3 linked regions of the Homo sapiens genome follow. The protein of the gene in region 3 purifies or fractionates together with the protein of the main gene of each other region. This does not show direct contact. Each region holds a gene or a part of one and is shown on either strand. Other genes may lie near its edges. The genes, in order: GBP6, WASHC4 and RPS6KA4.

Region 1 (3,730 bases), on a different chromosome or scaffold from region 3:
GAAACTTACAATCATGGTGGAAGGGGAAGCAAACACATCCTTCTTCACATGGTAGCAGGAGAGAGAAGAATGATAGCCAAGTAAAGGGGGAATCCCCTTATAAAATGATCAGCTCTCATGAGAACTTACTCACTATCACGAGAATAGCATGGGGAAACCACCCACATGATTCAATTACCTCCCACCAGGTCCCTCCCACGACATGCGGGGATTATGGGAACTACAATTCAAGATGAGATTTGGGTGAGGACACAGCCAAACTATCCATAGCATGCATATATATATTTATTGAATATATATATAATTTATATATTTTTATTATACTTTAAGTTCTAGGGTACATGTGCACAACATGCAGGTTTGTTACATATGTATACATGTGCCATGTTGGTGTGCTGCACCCATTAACTCATCATTTACATTAGGTATATCTCCTAATGCTATCCCTCCCTGCTCCTGCCACCTCACGACAGGCCCTGGTGTGTGATGTTCCCCACCCTGTGTCCAAGTGTTTTCATTGTTCAATTCCCACCTATGAGTGAGAACATGTGGTGTTTGGTTTTTTGTCCTTGTGATAGTTTGCTGAGAATGATGGTTTCCAGCTTCATCCATGTGCCTACAAAGGACATGAACTCATCATTTTTTATGGCTGCATAGTATTCCATGGTGTATATGTGCCACATTTTCTTAATCCAGTCTATCACTGATGGACATCTGGGTTGGTTCCAAGTCTTTGCTACTGTGAATAGTGCCGCAATAAACATACATGTGCATGTGTCTTTATAGCAGCATGATCTATAATCCTTTGGGTATATACCCAGTAATGAGATGGCTGGGTCAAATGGTATTTCTAGTTCTAGATCCTTGAGGAATCGCCACACTGTCTTCCACAATGGTTGAACTAGTTTACGGTCCCACCAACAGTGTAAAAGTGTTCCTATTTCTCCACATCCTCTCCAGCACTTGTTGCTTCCTGACTTTTTAATGATCACCATTCTAATTGGTGTGAGATGGTATCTCATTGTGGTTTTGATTTGCATTTCTCTGATGGCCAGTGATGATGAGCGTTTTTTCATGTGTCTGCTGGGTGCATAAATGTCTTCTTTTGAGAAGTGTCTGTTCATATCCTTTGCCCACTTTTTGATGGGGTTGTTTGTTTTTTTCTTGTAAATTTGTTTGAGTTCATTGTAGATTCTGGATATTAGCCCTTTGTCAGATGAGTCAATTGCAAAAATTTTCTCCCATTCTGTAGGTTGCCTGTTCACTCTGATGGTAGTTTCTTTTGCTGTGCAGAAGCTCTTTAGTTTAATTAGATCCCATTTGTCAATTTTGGCTTTTGTTGCCATTGCTTTTGGTGTTTTAGACATGAAGTCTTTGCCCATGCCTATGTCCTAAATGGTATTGCCTAGGTTCTCTTCTAGAGTTTTTATGGGTTTAGGCTTAACATTTAAGTCTTTAATCCATCTTGAATTAATTTTTGTATAAGGTGTAAGGAAGGGATCCAGTTTCAGCTTTCTATATATGGCTAGCCAGTTTTCCCAGCACCATTTATCAAATAGGGAATCCTTTCCCTATTTCTTGTTCTTGTCAGGTTTGTCAAAGATCAGATGGTTGTAGATGTGTGGTATTATTTCTGAGAGCTCTGTCCTGTTCCATTGATCTATATCTCTGTTTTTGTACCAGTACCATGCTATTTTGGTTACTGTAGCCTTGTAGTATAGTTTGAAGTCAGGTAGCATGATGCCTCCAACTTTGTTCTTTTGGCTTAGGACTGTCTTGGCAATGTGGGCTCTTTTTTGGTTCCATATGAACTTTAAAGTAGTTTTTCCAATTCTCTGAAGAAAGTCATTGGTAGTTTGATGGGGATGGCATTGAATCTATAAATTACCTTGGGCCGTATGGCCATTTCCACAATATTGATTCTTCCTATCCATGAGCATGGAATGCTCTTCCATTTGTTTGTGTCCTCTTTTATTTCATTGCACAGTGGTTTGTAGTTCTCCTTGAAGAGGTCCTTCACATCCCTTGTAAGTTGGATTCCTAGGTATTTTATTCTCTTTGAAGCAATTGTGAATGGGAGTTCATTCATGATTTGGCTCTCTGTTTGTCTGTTATTGGTGTGTAAGAATGCTTGTGATTTTTGCACATTGATTTTGTATCCTGAGACTTTGCTGAAGTTGCTTATCAGCTTAAGGAGATTTTGGGCTGAGATGATGTGGTTTTCTAGATATACAATCATGTCATCTGCAAACAGGGACAATTTGACTTCCTCTTTTCCTAATTGAATACCCTTTATTTCTTTCTCCTGCCTTATTGCCCTGGCCAGAACTTCCAACACTATGTTGAATAGGAGTGGTGAGAGAGGGCATCCCTGTCTTGTGCCAGTTTTCAAAGGGAATGCTTCCAGTTTTTGTCCATTCAGTCTGATATTGGCTGTGGGTTTGACATAAATAGCTCTTATTATTTTGAAATACGTCCCATCAATACCTAATTTATTGAGAGTTTTTAGCATGAAGAGCTGTTGGATTTTGTCAAAGGCCTTTTCTGCATCTATTGAGATAATCATGTGGTTTTTGTGTTTGGTTCTCTTTTTATGCTGGATTATGTTTATTGATTTGCATATGTTGAACCAGCCTTGCATCCCAGGGATGAAGCCCACTTGATCATGGTGGATAAGCTTTTTGATGTGCTGCTGGATTCGGTTTGCCAGTATTTTATTGAGGATTTTTGCATTGATGTTCATCAGGGATATTGGTCCAAAATTCTCTTTTTTTGTTGTTGTGTCTCTGCCAGGCTTTGGTATCAGGATGATGCTGGCCTCATAAAATGAGTTAGGGAGGATTCCATCTTTTTCTATTGATTGGAATAGTTTCAGAAGGAATGGTACCAGCTCCTCCTTGTACCTCTGGTAGAATTCAGCTGCGAATCCGTCTATATATATTCAATCTCAAAAAAGGGAATTTTGTCATTTGCAACAACATAGATGAACACTGAGGTCGTTATGCTAAGTGAAATAAGTCAGACATAGAAAGACAAATACTGCATGATCTCACCTATTTGTGGAATCTAAAATAGTCAAATAGTTAAACTCATAGCAGCAGAGTATAATAGTGGTTGCCAGGGGCTGGGGATGCGAGAAATGAAGAAATGTTGGTGACAGAGTTCAAAATTTCAGTTATGAAAGATAAATAAACTCTGGAGATCTACCGTACAGCAGTGTGACTATAAGTAACAATACTATATTGATTGTGACCTTCACTTCCGCTAAGAGGACAGATCTTAATTGTTCTTACCACACCAAAAAATAAAAAGAGAGCATAGAAAAAAGAAAACGGTAACTATGTGAGGTAACAGCTATATTATTGGCTGGATTGTGGTGATCATTTCACAGTGTATACACATACCAAAACATTAAGTTGTACAGCTTAATTATATATAATTTTTATTTGTCAATTATACAACACTAAAGCAGAAAAATAAACAGAATTTCTAACGCCTGTTTGGGCAAAAATAAAGTGTATAGAAATTTAGAACCCATTCCCAAATAACTCTCAAAGTAAGATAATAAAAGAGAGAAATTATTTATTTCACCCATTCATAAGAAGCTAAATATCAAAAATTCATCTTATAATGTTTATTGTAGGAAGAACAAATACTTTTTTATGATGAGCACAATCAGAAATGTCTCAAAGCCTTCCAGAATGCTCTGTGGGTAATTGATGAGCTTCAT
Region 2 (3,500 bases), on a different chromosome or scaffold from region 3:
AACATCACAAATTATACCTTGTTTACACTTTAAAATTTTTAAAAATCTAGGCTAAACACTGCAATTGTTTCCACTGGTTTTTAATGAAGGTGGAGTTGAGGGAGCTCAGAACCTGTATTGGGGTGGGGCTTCAAACCACATGGGCTCCTTTGTCCTGAGGAATCTTGATATTCCTGGTCTAAGAAAGGCCCGCTCCCCTCACGCCAGTTCCTCCAGCTGGGCCAAGAAAGAACCATTACAGTACATTGTCATTCCTGGTAGGAACATGGCTGCAAACTCACATATCAAAACTGTCCAGAATGAATAACTTTCCATTTGTATTTATAACTTATTATAATAAATTATACGTAATATATATTATTTCTTAAAATAATTTTAAATGAAACAGCTTTTCACTGTTTTTGACAGAATGAATTCCTGGCTTTTTGTGCAAAATGTCATGTGTGCATATTTCATTAACAGACAAAGACTATTTGAGTAATGTATTCAGAAACTGACTATATCTCTGAGCAATCTTTAGCTGAAATAGTCTTAGAACAGTGATGTGAGTGATAACATAACAACTGCAACTCTGGAGAGTTCCTTAAGAGGAATAGGCCAAAGCAAGGAATCCCACTGCCATGAGACTGAAGGGTTGTTTGTTTTGTTTTAATGCTTTAGCCTGAAAGCAAATGTCCAATCGCCCCGCAGAGTTTTCCCAGTCACCTGGGCTGGGGAAAAGGTTCTGGCATCATGAAACACATGAGCAGAACTGAGGCAATAACTGAGTTTCTTCATAATTTAGATTATATTGATTCAAATTCTTCCAAATGGCTTTGCTAATTTATCCTTGAAAATGAACACAAATGTAGTATGTATAAATTTTCATTTAATATTGAGTGTCTTCCAGATTAATAAGCTGAAACAATTTTTTCAAGCATGTTTATTTAGTCTAGATTCAAAAAACGCCTGGATATGCACCTAATTAATAAGTAATATTAGTAATATTTAATTTATGCAACAATGTCAAGAAATAAGGTAGTTCACGTAAGTGGTCTACCCAATGAGTCACCTCTACTCTATATAAAGAAAAAAGGTGTATTTTAAAAATTAACATAAAATAAGATTAATAAAAACATCTTGTTTTATGAAGAGCTTTATATCTTGATTTATGAAAACTTCATGAAGCACGAGTAAGACAAAAAGGAGACTAGTAAACATGAAAATTATAAGGGTTAACTAGTCGCTGTATCTAGTTTTGATCTTCCAAGCAATGAGAAATGTATGCTATATAATATCCATGACAGAAAAAGGGAAACATCTGTTTCTCAGAGAAGATGATTATTCCTAAATTTCAAATCTGAGAGAAATATATCATGGGGACATTAAATATGAAACACTGAACAATGCTCTTACGCCTTAAAAAGTATAGATTCCTTTCCACCATCCTACATAGAATACAATGGACAGAATCCTTTCCTTAATGACTGAAGTTCATTGAAATCACTATCAGTTATTATGGCTATATTGCCTGAGTCTCCAGGGCCTGACTATGAAAGAAGGCAGGATGCTATTTACTACAACTAAATAGCCCCTATGATTTTACAGTTCTTTAATCATCTGTCCCATCTCATTCAGTCAACATCTAGTCATCAGCAGCTCTGCCTTCAGCAACATTTAGCTGTCCTCCTCTATTTGTTCCTTCAAATCTAATAGTTTGAGCCATGAAAGAAAAACCAAACTTGTGAAAAGTGTATTTAAATTAAAAGCAGATGATCCTGAACAAGGTTTTAAAGGGTTACCAAGTGTGAAATGCATAAACTACATAAATTCCTTTTCAATTTCACACAAGATCTATACAGGCTTTACTTTTTTTAAAAGACTTAATGCTAGGTCTGTGTTATTTTCCAAAAGGACAAAGAAGCTAGATGTCTGACCAGATAAAATGGTGCATTACTGTCTATTACTAAAGACATTTATTGGTCTTTCCAAATTTAAACCACTCACTGACCTTCCTTCTCTTTCTTTTCTTGGTTTTCTTCAGCCGCAGTCTTGTCTGCTCTGAAGAAAATTCTTGCACTGCTCAGTGAGAAATACAGCAATTCAAATTCCTAAGTAAATTTAAAAATTTGAAATAAAAACCAAAAATACTTATTATGGCAAAATACCAAAAATATATGCATTTTTATGCCTCTTATTATTATTTTTAAAAGCTCTAGTGGAAATCATAAATACAGAAACTGAAATAAGTAACCCGCCCATTTTTAAGATGTGAGTCAAATGGCTTCCAAATAGCACTCATTTTAAAATATAATCTTTTTGCCACTATTCATCTCACTTGTGAAAATGGTAGTTTCTATATGGCTTCTGCTTTTCAGACATTAAGAAGTCATGGATATCAAATGGTAAGTCAAAGCAGATGTGACTCTTAGGCTCCTCTCTACCTGTAGATAGACATCCAGTCGCTTCTGAGTGAGATTCATGGTTTGTAAGAGTTTTTCATCTTGACTGGCTGACTGTACATTCTGTTGCTTAGCAACTGCTCTTATCTCCTTCAGGTATTTCTCTCTAACAGACTGGAACCAGTGAAGTGAATCAAACTCCCGATACTGATCCAAAAGCTTTAGAATGTAAGCCACACCTGCAGGCATAAGCAAAACTAAGGTTAAATTACAGTGAGTACAGAAGTGGTATTCTACTCCTTCACCAATAATTCCCAACACTAAGCATTCTGAGTAATAATTCCTAGCATTTTAAGTTTGTCCCGTTTCAAGTTACATTTTACAGCATAAATGAATGATGGGTTTAACAAAATGGCTTAATTCCTCCTTTAAAAACAATGTAGAAGTATAACTAAAGACAAGTCAATTAAGAAGAAAATAAATAACTAACATGGCCATATAAATCACCAGGAGAAACGATATAGCTGTAAGCATAAAGAATAAAACTTTCCATGACTTGTACCTATAATCCCAATACTTTGGGAGGCTGAGGCTAGAGGACCTCTTGAGCCCAGGAGTTTAAGACCAACCTGGGCAACACAGTGAGACTCCTGTCTCTAAAAAAAACAAAAATTTTTTTAATTAGCCAGATGTGGCGATGCATGCCTGTAGTCTCAGCTACTCGGGAGGCTGAGGTGGGAGGATCGCTTGGGTCCAGGAGGTCGAGGCTGCAGTGAACCATGACTGCACCACTGCACTCCAGCCTGGGTGACAGAGCAAGACCCTGCCTCAAAAAGAAAGGAAAAAAACACTTCAACTGCTAAAAAGATGGCAATTGAGGAAGCTACAAGGAAACCAGAGAAACTAAATATAAGACGTTAAAACTGTACAACCCCAACAAAAACAAAGCCTAAATATTAGGCCAAAGTGGACAAGTGATTAGCAATACTAAGAAGGCATTCAATAAGTTATAAACTACAGAAAACAAGTATCGTCAATCATGTATTCCAGCTAAAAACACGGTAAACAACACTCATGAAAAACAAATCTATAGGCCGGGCATGGTGGCTCATGCCTGTA
Region 3 (3,830 bases):
CAGAAGGAGAAGGTCCGCTCTTTCTGGGAGGGCAAGAGGTCCTGCTTAGATGTCGAAACCTCTCCTGTGCCCCAGTGCCCCACAAGGCCCAGAGTAAGACTCGCTCAACTTGTGAGGTTGGAGAGCTGAGCTGTGGAAACTTCTTGGAGCTATTCACTTCTGCAGCCCCAGAATGCAGGCCCAGAGCAGGAAGAGGCAGGAAGGAGAAGGATTGAATGGGGCACTGCAGGCAGAGGTGGCCTCCACTCACCTCCTCCGTCAGGAACTCCTTGCTCAGCCCGAAGTCCGTGAGGACAATGTGGCCCTCGGAGTCCAGCAGCACATTCTCCAGTTTCAGGTCTCGGTAAATGATGCCGAGCTGGTAGGAGCAAGAGGGGTGCTGAGGCTTCCTCCCCGAAACCCTCCCCAGCTCCTCCAGCTCCTGGCCCTGCTCAGGATAAGGAGACCCCCCAGAGAAAGTCATCTGCCTGTAGAGGGGGTCTCCAGGGCAGAGCCACTGAATAAGAAAGGCCATTTAAGATATAAAACAAAGAAGGAGGGCCCCGTGGATCAGGCCCCAAGGTCCCAGAGAGAGGAAAGTCTGTGTGAAGAGCTCCATTTCAAGGAGGCCTTAGGAGCCAGGCCGTGAGGTTTCCATTTGAGGAAGTTCTGTGAACGCAGCCCCGAGTTCCCTGAAAGAGGAAAGCCCCTTCGAGGAGGTGCCAGGGGAGGGGACCCCACCAGGCAACGTTGAGGCTTCCTGCAAGGGGTCCAGGGGAAGCAGCTCCAATTCCCACCCAGCTCACCACTGGCCCCCCAGGAAGCCCAGGGGGAAGCCTGAGGCTGCCCTGCGTGCAGATTCCTTCCAAGGCACAGACCCAGTTTCCATAGCAACAGCCTGCGGCCAGGTCTTCACCCACCTTGTGCAGGTGTTCCAGGGCCAGCACGATCTCACCCCCATACACGCGCACCTCAGCCTCCTTGAAGTACTGGCGCTGGTAGAGGTGGGTGAACATCTCCCCGCCGCTCACATAGTCTGGGAGGTGCAGTGGAAGTCAGGAAGCAGCCCCGTCAGGTGGCCTCGCCTGCCCCCAGCCACCCCAACCCCGTTGGGATGTGGTGTGCGCTCACCCAGGATGAGGTGCAGCTTGGCATCCGTCTGGAAAGCGTAGTGCAGCGTGACCAGGAAGGGCGCCTGGCGCACCAGCTCCAGCACCGAGCGCTCGGTGCGCGTGTGCTCTTGCGTCTTGGCGCGCTGCACCAGCGCCGCCTTGCGCAGCACCTTCATGGCGTACAGCTTCCCCGCGTCGTGCCCGCCCGCCTTCCGCACCAGGAACACCTTGCCGTAGGCTGTGGGAGCAGCGAGTGGGTGGAGGGTGGGCTGTGAGCGGGAGATTGGTGCAGGCTTGGGGGGTGGGGGCGATGCCAACCCAGGAGGGTGTGCAAATGAGGCGAAGGAGCTGGGGCAACAGGCAGGTGTGCAAAAAGCTGGCAGAGCCTTCTAAGGAAAGGGTGTGCACACCCCGGGAGGGTGCCCAGCAAAACCAGGGAAAGGATGTGCAAACCAGGCTGGGGAGCATGCATCTCCAGGGGGCCTGCTGCGAGGCATGGGGGCGGGGCATATGCAAACCTGCGAGAGATCAGATGGATGTGAAAAGATGCCAGTGCAAGGAAGGGAGGCAGAGGTGTGCACCTGGCTGGGGAAGGGATGCGCAAACCAGCGCTGGGGCATTTGCAAAATGTGGGAGGGGGATCCCATATTGGAAGAAAGGGAGGAGCTATGCAAATCACTTGAGAGGGGCGCCAGTCCCCCTCCCCAGGGTGTTGGCAAATCCAGGGGGGTATGCACGCACAGGACCGTGGAGGGAGGAGTGATGTCAATGTGGAGTGCCCTGGAAGTGGGCATGCAAACTCTGGCGAGGCAGGGCGGGGCAGGCAAGGCAGGCTGTGCCGGGAAAGGGTGGGGGGCCTGCTCAGTGGCCTGGCCCAGGCCCAAGAGTGAGCAGGCAGGAGGTCAGGGGCACCGCGCCTGGGACGCCTGCCCGGTGGATGGGGGTCCTCACCTCCCGTGCCCAGCACCTTGAGCAGCTCGAAGTTCTCCACGCTCACCTTCTCCTCGTGCCCGGTCAGGTTGGCTGTGGGCACAGGGGGCGAATGAGCCCAGCCGGTCCATGACCCGTCCCGGCCTGCCCCGGGCAGCCGCAGTCAGGCCCCACACCCACCTTCTGTGATCCGCAGCTCCACGGCGCAGCTCTCATCGTCGTCCTCGTCCCCCATGGCGGGCGGGTCGCTGGGGCCCGCGCGGCTCGGGCTCCGGGCGGCGCCGGTTACATGGCGGCTCCGGCCGGGGCGGGCGCTTCCTGGTGCCGCCTCCGGGGCCGAGGCGGGCGCCGGCACCGCCTCCCGGCTCCCCGCCCTGCGCGGCCTGAGTCAGGCGGCTGGAACGTGACAGCGCCGGGCTGCCGGTGGGCGGCCGGCTGGGGCCGCCCTGTCTCCCGAGCCCCCAGGCCAGGCCTCAGGGCCGTGCGCTCCGGGACCTTACTCGACTCTCCCGGGAACTGGAAACACCCCGTGGGAGCCATCCCTGAGCCCGTGGGTAACCTGGAGCCTCTGGGGCATTAGTCCCCAAGCCAGGAATCTGCCCGGGAATGCCGGCTGCAGCCAGTGGCTGGAGGACATTAGGAGTCTGTGCCCCAAGGTGGGGGACGAGGTGCCTGGTGCTGGGCAGGCTGAGAGGGGGTCTGGATCCTGGAAGTCACCCAACTCTCAGGCAGTGGAGCCCACCCCACTCCATCGTCCTGGGGGTGGCCAGCAGGGCCCCTCTCCCCAGAGGACTGGCCTTTGCAAGGAGGAGCCTCATCACCAAGAGGGGGCTGGAGCCCGGCCTGGGACCCCATGGCAAGGAGAGGAGTGGCCAGTTTTCTGACCAGCTTTCTGTCGGGGGTGCCTGCAGAAGCACTTCAGCCCCCAGTCACCGTGCAGAGCCCACCAGGTGCCATGCGCACCTCACGTGTTCTGCTCCTGTTGTCTCCTAGCCTGGTGCAGTACCCAGCTTAGAGCCCTGAGCAGGCCTCAAGAAGAGATGTCAGTGCCACACGGGGCTGCCCCCTCTCCCCATGAGGCCCAGGGCCCCTGCTGACTGGTCCTCCTGAGCCCCTGCTCCGTCTTCTTCCTGCCTTTCCCTTCCTGACCACCAATGGGGCCACCTAGCAGAGTGGGACAGCCATGAGGCCCCACACCCTGAGGCCGGTGGGAGGGGCTCTCAGCTCCTCTGCCAGCTGGAGAGGCCAGGGTGTCCACCCCACGCCCCTGTCCTGTGAAGCCCTGGCTGAGAGGAGGAGGAACTCAAGCTGCTGCAGGTCACACCTGGGAGGCCGGACGGACCGTCCCTCCCAGCTCTGCACCCCCCAAGTTCAGGCTGCCTTATCTCAGCCCTGGGCAGCTCCACCCTCCCCTGGGTGGCCCCAGGTACCCTGACTCACATCCTGCACCCCAGCCGAATTGCCCCGCCTCTCAGGCATCAGGCTAGAGGCCCTGGTCAGAGAGCCAGCGTCCCTCCCACCTCTCCTGGCAACCCCTGGCATTAAGTGATGCCCCGCCAGGCTGAGAACTCCCTGGGGAGGGGGCTCAACCTCAAGGAGGGAGGGGAGATGAGTAGGAGGAGGATGTGAACAGAGAGAAGACAGTGCCCTGGGAGAGGGTGGGGGCGGGGCAACAGGGGCTTCACTGCCCCACACCCCTGAGCCCAGATCTTAGACCCCAATCCCTGCTGGCTACCCAGGATGTCATCCCCTCTCCACCTCACCAGGACATCCGGGCTTTGGCCGGCCGGACTGGCCAAGACCCTGGAG

What was found.
Region 1: the proteins of RPS6KA4 (region 3) and GBP6 purify together in Homo sapiens (affinity purification with mass spectrometry, with the first as the bait; one large-scale study listed by BioGRID). This does not show direct contact.
Region 2: the proteins of RPS6KA4 (region 3) and WASHC4 purify together in Homo sapiens (affinity purification with mass spectrometry, with the first as the bait; one large-scale study listed by BioGRID). This does not show direct contact.

Annotation. Positions count from the first base shown.
Region 1 is NC_000001.11:89,370,402-89,374,131, reverse strand, and holds part of GBP6 (guanylate-binding protein 6), read right to left. Parts: intron 1-3,730.
Region 2 is NC_000012.12:105,163,231-105,166,730, reverse strand, and holds part of WASHC4 (WASH complex subunit 4), read right to left. Parts: intron 2,621-3,500; coding exon 2,424-2,620; intron 2,091-2,423; coding exon 1,991-2,090; intron 1-1,990. UniProt on the Homo sapiens protein: Acts as a component of the WASH core complex that functions as a nucleation-promoting factor (NPF) at the surface of endosomes, where it recruits and activates the Arp2/3 complex to induce actin polymerization, playing a key role in the fission of tubules that serve as transport intermediates during endosome sorting.
Region 3 is NC_000011.10:64,357,662-64,361,491, reverse strand, and holds the start of RPS6KA4 (ribosomal protein S6 kinase alpha-4), read right to left. Parts: upstream 2,331-3,830; 5' UTR 2,257-2,330; coding exon 2,202-2,256; intron 2,115-2,201; coding exon 2,043-2,114; intron 1,330-2,042; coding exon 1,111-1,329; intron 1,016-1,110; coding exon 900-1,015; intron 359-899; coding exon 251-358; intron 24-250; coding exon 1-23. UniProt on the Homo sapiens protein: Serine/threonine-protein kinase that is required for the mitogen or stress-induced phosphorylation of the transcription factors CREB1 and ATF1 and for the regulation of the transcription factor RELA, and that contributes to gene activation by histone phosphorylation and functions in the regulation of inflammatory genes.